2 linked regions of the Homo sapiens genome follow. The protein of the gene in region 2 interacts with the protein of the main gene of each other region in a biochemical or structural test. Each region holds a gene or a part of one and is shown on either strand. Other genes may lie near its edges.

Region 1 (3,819 bases), on a different chromosome or scaffold from region 2:
CATTAAACATAGGTCCCTAGATCATTAAAGCCTCTGAAACCCTAAGTCTTTAATTTTCTAAAGTTCTGAACAGGTTATTGCAAGTGAATTCGATCTAATGTGAAGCTGTCAATTTGGTACCGGATTGTATTCATCTTCAAGGCTGGCAGAGAGCACTTTGCCTCAGGCCACATTTTCAGATAACTACTATGACAAGTAAAACAGGACTGGTGTGGAATTTACTTAAGCTTGGATTTATTTCTGCTTTTCCTTATCAGCACTAGTGAAATCCCAGCATATATATTAGCCTTTTAATGTAATGAATCCCAAACATCATGGTCTCATTCATGATATTAGTTGGCTATCATTTAAACAGTGTTTTAAAAGAAGTACTCTTTTTAGTGGCCTGGCTAAAGCCAGCAAGGATGGAAACCAATATTTATTGATAACGGTGCCTTATGTATCTTACCTCATTTAATTCAAATGAAAATTCAGTGAGATTGTTATTACAGGTCTATCATCCCTTATCCAAAACTCTTGAAGCAAGATATTTTCAGAAAGGTAGTGCACTACCTTAGACATCCAGCGAGGTCTGGAGCAGCATCCTAAAATCAACCACATTAACAAATCTGCAGCAAAACCTATTGTTCACACAAAATGGGATGAAGAAAGTGAGTTTGCCTTATACATGTGAAAAAAATATAAACTGGTTGAGAACTTTTTGCATTTTCAATTTGTGAATAAGACCTGAAGAGTCTCCATCCTACACATGAGAAAACTGGCTTAGAAGAGTTAAGTAAGGCCGGGTGCAGTGGCTCATGCCTGTAATCGCAGCACTTTGGGAGGCTGAGATGGGTCGATCACCTGAGGTCAGGAGTTCGAGACCAGCCTGGCCAACATGGAGAAACCCCATCTCTACTAAAAATACAAAAATTAGCTGGGCATGGTGGCAGGTGCCTGTAATTGCAGCTACTTGGGAGGCTGGGGCAAGGAGAAAATCCCTTGAACCCGGGAGGCAGAGGTTGCAGTCAGCTGAGATCGTGCCATTGCACTCCAGCCTGGGCGGCAAGAGTGAAACTCTGTCTCAAAAAAAAAAAAAAAAAAAAAAAAAAAAGAGTTAAATAACTTGGCAAAGGTCACACAGCAAGTAGAAGAGGCAGAATAAGACTAGGTGTTAAAAGCCCATTACGCTAAACTGCCTCACAAGTATGAATGATGCTATTTCTAGTGTATAGCCAATGCCCCAGTGACATTGGAAACTGCAAGCTGAATGCTACAAGATAGGAAGTAGCAGATAAAGTCTTCAGTTTCAGCCATTTAGAATCATGGTTTTCGTTAGTACTAATGATCCAGATGTTTTCTTTTTATTTCTTTTTAAAGTGTTTTAGTGACCCACACAGATGCGGTAAAAATTTCAGATTTTGGTACATCTAAGGAACTCAGTGACAAAAGTACCAAGATGTCATTTGCTGGCACGGTCGCATGGATGGCGCCAGAGGTGATACGGAATGAACCTGTCTCTGAAAAAGTTGATATATGGTGAGTGGCGCCACCAGTTGTGCCAACTAAAAAGCCTTTTCCCACTTTCGCCCTATTAGCACTGTCTTCCTTCAGCACTTACTTTTCCAGAATATTCTTCAGTGTTGCTCACTTTTGGTTGATTTCAGCCTCATATTTTCTGAGGTACTTCCCAGTATGGTGATATATGGGGAGAAGGATTAGGGGGAATTAGGGTGGCTATCTACTCAGTAAGTCACCAGTTTGGGGGACCTCAGAGAATATGCTGAACTTTCTAGGAAACTGAAAGTTTACTTCAAATGATCATTTAGTATAGAAGTCTTTCTGAAATGTGTTACATAGTTCTCACCTTCTTGAGTAAAGTACAAGAGCTTACCTAATCTCAATGACTCAGGTCATCATTACACATATCAATAATGTACCTTGCTATGATACAATTATGTTCTCTAGACATGTTTGAGATGTAGGAGGTTGTTTTGCCCTTTTATTGAACAGCCTCTATAGGCTATGCTTTAAAAAAAAATCTCTGTAACCTTTCCTCTGAGGTTATAAGTCTTTTCTATTAACAGTATTTTTCCCTGTAATAGCTTTTCTTTTACCCTTAAAATTGGCAACTAGTAACTTCTAGGCTTAAAACCAAAATAATAGCACATGTCAAAATTGCATGTAATACCAGAGCAAATAGGAAAAAGTAGAAATGTGGGGTCATTCGTAATTTAGATAATCATTACTAAAGTACCCTCCTTAGGGATTACTAATTGATGTTCCCACCAGAAATATGTAAGAGTGTTTTCTCAGTCTCACCAACAAAATGTGCTAAACTCTTGGATTTTTGCCAATCATATAGGTAAAAAAACGGTATCTTGGGTGCATTCCTCTTAGGATAAGTGAGCCTGTACTTTTGTTCATATGTGTTACAGCCATCGTATTTGCTTATTTGTGAATGACTCATAATCTTTGCTCAGCTTTCTGATTTTTACTCATAATTTATCAGAGTATTTTATGTATTAAGGAGATTCACATTTTGTGTAAATTGTAGATACTTCACATTTTGTTATTTTGCTTATGGTATTTTTTTCAGTGTCAGATTTTGAAAATACAGTTTAATTTCTCAATTTCTCCTTTTATGGCTTTTAGATTTCATGGTTTAAAAAGTCTTTAAAAGCCAGGCGCAGTGGCTCACACCTGTAATTCCAGCACTTTGGGAGGCCAAGGCGGGTGGATCACTTGAGGTCAGGAGTTCGAGACCAGCCTGGCCAACATGGTGAAATCCCATCTCCACTAAAAATACAAAAAATTAGCCAGGCGTGGTGGCACGCACTTGTAATCCCAGCTACTTGGGAGGCTCAGGCAGCAGAATCGCTTGAACCCAGGAGGTGGAGGTTGCAGTGAGCCAAGATCGCACCACTGCATTCCAGCCTAGGTGACAGAGCAAGATGCTGTCTAAAAAAAAAAAAAAAAAAAAAAAGTTTTTAACACTCCTAGATAATTTTTTAACTCCTTATTTTTTAGAAGATTTTTATGGTTTCATTTTTCTATTTAAATCTTTGATTCATGTGAAATTTATCTTGATTTATGGTGAGTTATAGATTTAATTTTTTTCCTAGCTGTTCCAACAACATTTATTAACTAATCAATTTTTCCCCACTGGTTTTTGATGTCACTTCTATCATACATTCAATTCCTAAATGTATTTGGTTTATTTCTGGATTTCTTGTCCAGTCCATTATGCTGGTGATCTGTTCACACACGGGAGTTAATTATTCAGGTTTTAATTTCTGGTAGTGTTGATTACCCCACATAGATTTTTTTTTTTTTTTCAGAGTTGTCCCAGATGTTTCTGTTTTTCTTATAGCAGTATTAGAATTTTAAAACTGGGTATATGTACTAATTTGATTTCAATTAATAGAGAACTAAAATACAAATCAGTCTTTCTGAAACATCTTCTGTCCATGTTCCCGGCGCTACTGTAGGTCTTTTGGAGTGGTGCTTTGGGAGCTGCTGACAGGAGAGATCCCTTACAAAGATGTAGATTCTTCAGCCATTATCTGGGGTGTTGGAAGCAACAGCCTCCACCTTCCAGTTCCTTCCACTTGCCCTGATGGATTCAAAATCCTTATGAAACAGACGTGGTAAGAATATTGTCTCTAAAACAATAGGGAGGTCTCTAATGTGTATTTGGAGTAAATATCCTGGTGGTGGAAAGAATAGGAGCTTTGGAGTAGGAGAATCTTGGGTTCAAATACTAGCTCTGCCCCTTTCTATCTGTGCAATTTTGGGCACGTTATTCAATATCAGTTTTCTCATTTGTAAAATAGAGAC
Region 2 (3,819 bases):
GCTAAGGTAGGAGGATCACTTGAGCCCAGGAGTTCGAGGCTGCAATGAGTTCTGTTCGCACCACTGCACTCCAGCCTAGGCAAAAGAGCGAGACTCTGTCTCTTAAAAAATAGTAAATGCAAATTCTTGGGCCCCAAGCCAGAGCCACTGAATCATAAAGGCTGGGGGTGAGACCCAGCAATCTGTGATGTACAAGCCCTCCAGGTGAGTCCAAAGTCCACTCAAGTGGGCTAGAAGATCCCAGCTTCCTTCTTTGCCACCTTCCACAACACTGGAACAAAAAGGGGCGTTTTTGAAATCATATCCCTGCCCACCTGCAGGACACCTGACATTACAGATAAGCCCTGCTCTCTCCTATTACCCTCTCCCTCCCCCAGACCCCCATCACACCACAAAGCCCCCTTGCTACCGCTTCTCCTACTTCGAAGTCACATCACTCACAGTCGCTCACTCTCCCATTTCCTCCCCTTCTGCCACTTTCCCACCCACTCCCTGTGGACCAGCATCTTGGGAGGCCCAGGCTGTGACATCAATCTAGGGCACAGGCACCTCCCTCATCACCTACCCTTAGACATCTCTCTGCACTGGGACTACTCCATACCCCCTCCCCTATTTCCCCATTTCAGCCTAGAGGAGCCTTGATTCATTCCCGAACTTTATTCTCCAGGGTGTCATTCTGCTGTGACATGAGGACCTCACCTCACTGGGGAACACACCTGCCTGCTGGCCGGCATCCCTACCTCATTCATACTAAGGGAGGAGCTTTCAGAGGAAGGTGACTGGGGAAGGACACAGGTCAACAGTACCTTTCCACTTCCTCTTTCACTCCTCTTTTCACACAAAGTACCCTTCGAGGTTTTCCGGCCCAGCTAAGGGCTCCCTCCTCCATCTGCACCAGGCATCCCAGCCCTGACTCTGTTCCATTCGGGGACCGATACCACACTCTGCCTGCTACAGGTGACCTGAACACTAAGCACAAGCAACAACAACAAAGAGCAAGCCCTGGCTCTCTCATCCCCCCAACACCAGCAGTGTGCAGCCAGCCCTCCTGGGTTCACACCAACTTTTCAGGGAAGCAATGACAGCTAACATTTCAGTGGTATATGGACATGTCAGTGGTATATGAACATGTCAGCGGTATATGGGCATGTCAGCGGTATATGGACATCTCAGCGATATATGAACATGTCAGCGGTATATGGACATGTCAGCAGTATATGGACATCTCAGCGGTATATGGACATGTCAGCAGTATATGAACATCTCAGCGGTATATGGACATGTCAGCGGTATATGGACATCTCAGTGGTATATGGACATCTCAGTGGTATATGGACATCTCAGTGGTATATGGCTCATAAAGAGCTCTCACAATCAGTGTCCCCTCATCACTCAGAATCATCCTGTGGCCTCGATATCACTATTGTCCACATTTGCAGAACAGGACCACTCTTCTCCTCAACCCCCATGTCAATGGCAGGTGCCTGCCCAATGAGGGGGATAGTACCCCTAGGAGGGCAAAAATGGATCCTTGGGGGAGGGGGAGTAAAAAAGATTACTCTTTTTATGTGTAAAAGCACAAACATAAACAGTTATGCAGTAGATGGGTGGTATTAAAATTTCATGGGTTGTAATTAGGAAAAAAATTTTCTCAAATGGTTCTGGGGATGAGCAGGAGGAGGGTAACAGTGAGAAACCAAAAAAAAAAAAACAGTTGAGAAACATGGTAATAGCAGAAGCCCATTACAACCCAGAGACTTAACACTGCTGAGATGCCAAGGAGGTTTAGCCTCCACCCTTCCTGGACCGCCATCAGTCTCCTTGCCCAAGGCTCTGCCCAAGGACTTGGGTATAGTAAATATTTCTCAAAACAAGCCAGCCTCAGGCATCTTGCTGTTCCAGGCAGCCCAAACGTGCAATGCTGATGGACAGCGGAGCTTCTGCCACAGCCCTACAGCCCCCCGCAGTGGGGACTGCCACCAACTTCTTTCCCACTGAGGTCCAGGCCCCACAGTGACTCGGGATGGGCCGGAAGTGACTTGGCCAGAGCCTGGGGAGGCCACAGCCATGCTGTTGCCATGGAGACAGGGGTGGGGCTACTTACTGGAGACCTTCTTCACAGGGCGTGTGGATTTGTGTGTGGACGCTGGGTCATGCTCTCCAGGGTCACCTGTGTCAGAGAAGAAGGGCTCAGTGTGTGCGGCTCCTCTCACTGACCCTAGCAGCCAGCTTTGCCATGGGTCGGTGGGCAGGCAGAGGGTTTACACAGACAGCCATTTCCTCCGACCTTCCCCATCCCATCGCTTACAAGAGCTACAAACAAGGTGATCTAAGAACCAGTTTGGTGTATTCCCTTTTTTCTCTGACTTTTTAAAATGTAGCAAGGGCCAAGTCTTTTTTCCACCAGCACCCAGCTCTGTGGCCTCTGAGACTTCTCTGAGCTTTGGTTTCTTCGAGCACACAATGGGGATGACTTCACCTTGCTCATGGTTGATGTGACTCCTGAATGAGATCAAGGTCATGTAGCGGAGGCTGGGTCAACACTTGTTCCTTTCCCACTATTCTTTCTCTCCCCTCCTCCCACATACCAGCCACCTATAGCTTTGCCCCCACGCAGCACTTCCACAATGGGGCTGCACCGCCACCGATTTCAGAAGCCCTTCTGCAAGGACACTCGGCAGGCCAAGCTGAGATTCAAGCCCAATCTTGGACTACACAACAGAGATTTACTATGGGCCAGGCTCTGTGCTAGGCACTAGGGAAATAGCGTTGAAGAAAAATCAGACAGGCCAGGCACAGTGGCTCAAGCCTGTAATCCCAATGATTTGGGAGGCCAAGGCAGGAGCATCACTTGAAGCCAGGAGCTCAAGATCAGTCTGGACAACTTAGCGAGACCCTGGCTCTACAAAAAAAATTTTTTAGGCTGGGCCCGGTGGCTCACGCCTGTAATCCCAGCATTTTGGGAGGCTGAGGCAGGCAGATTACTTGAGGTCGAGAGTTCAAGACTAGCCTGACCAAAGTAGTGAAACCATGTCTCTATTAAAAATACAAAAATTAGCCAGGTGTGGTGGCACATGCCTGTAATCCCAGCTACTCAGGAGGCTGAGGCAGGAGAAATGCTTGAACCTGGGTGGCAGAGGTTGCAGTGAGCAGAGATTGGGCCATTGCACTCCAGCCTGGGTGACAGAGCGAGACTCCGTCTCAAAAAAAAAAAAATTTTTTTTTAATTAGCCGGGCATGATGGTGTGTATCTATAGTCCTAGCTAGTCGGGAGGCTGAGGCAGAGGGATCACTTAATCCCAGGAGTTTGAGGTTACAGTGAACTATAATCACGCCATTGCATTCCGGCCTGGGCGACAGAGCAAGATCCTGAATAAATAAATAAATAAGCCGCAGCCCCTGACCTCACAGAGATCACAACCTAATGAGGGAGATATACGGGGATCCCAAGGAAGAATGCGATACTACCCATGCAAGAGTCCCAAGAGGATGACAAGGACCCTGGGCCCAGTCTGAGGAGTGGGAGCAGTGGCAGGGGAGGCTGGCTATAAATGTAATGTTTTGCTGATCTTTGAAGGGTGAGAGGAGTTAATTAGTGAAGACGGTGGAGTTCAAGCCTTCTGGAGAGTGGGGAAGAGCAAACACAAAGGCCCTGTAGCAGGAAGTTTTGCATATTTGAGGAACTGAATGCAGAGAGATGCACCAGAGGAGAGTGGGGGGCGCCTTGGGGCTGGAGAGAGACCAACAGGGCTTGACCTGGCATCTAGACCAGGGTCAAGGGTTTGGTCTGCATCAGGGAGTAATAGGAAGCCTAGTGAG

The links.
Region 1: of the proteins of TRIM25 (region 2) and MAP3K13, one has a biochemical effect on the other in vitro, tested with the Homo sapiens proteins (one study listed by BioGRID).

What each region holds. Positions count from the first base shown.
Region 1 is NC_000003.12:185,446,430-185,450,248, forward strand, and holds part of MAP3K13 (mitogen-activated protein kinase kinase kinase 13), read left to right. Parts: intron 1-1,359; coding exon 1,360-1,518; intron 1,519-3,470; coding exon 3,471-3,629; intron 3,630-3,819. UniProt on the Homo sapiens protein: Activates the JUN N-terminal pathway through activation of the MAP kinase kinase MAP2K7. Acts synergistically with PRDX3 to regulate the activation of NF-kappa-B in the cytosol.
Region 2 is NC_000017.11:56,897,011-56,900,829, forward strand, and holds part of TRIM25 (E3 ubiquitin/ISG15 ligase TRIM25), read right to left. Parts: intron 2,171-3,819; coding exon 2,105-2,170; intron 1-2,104.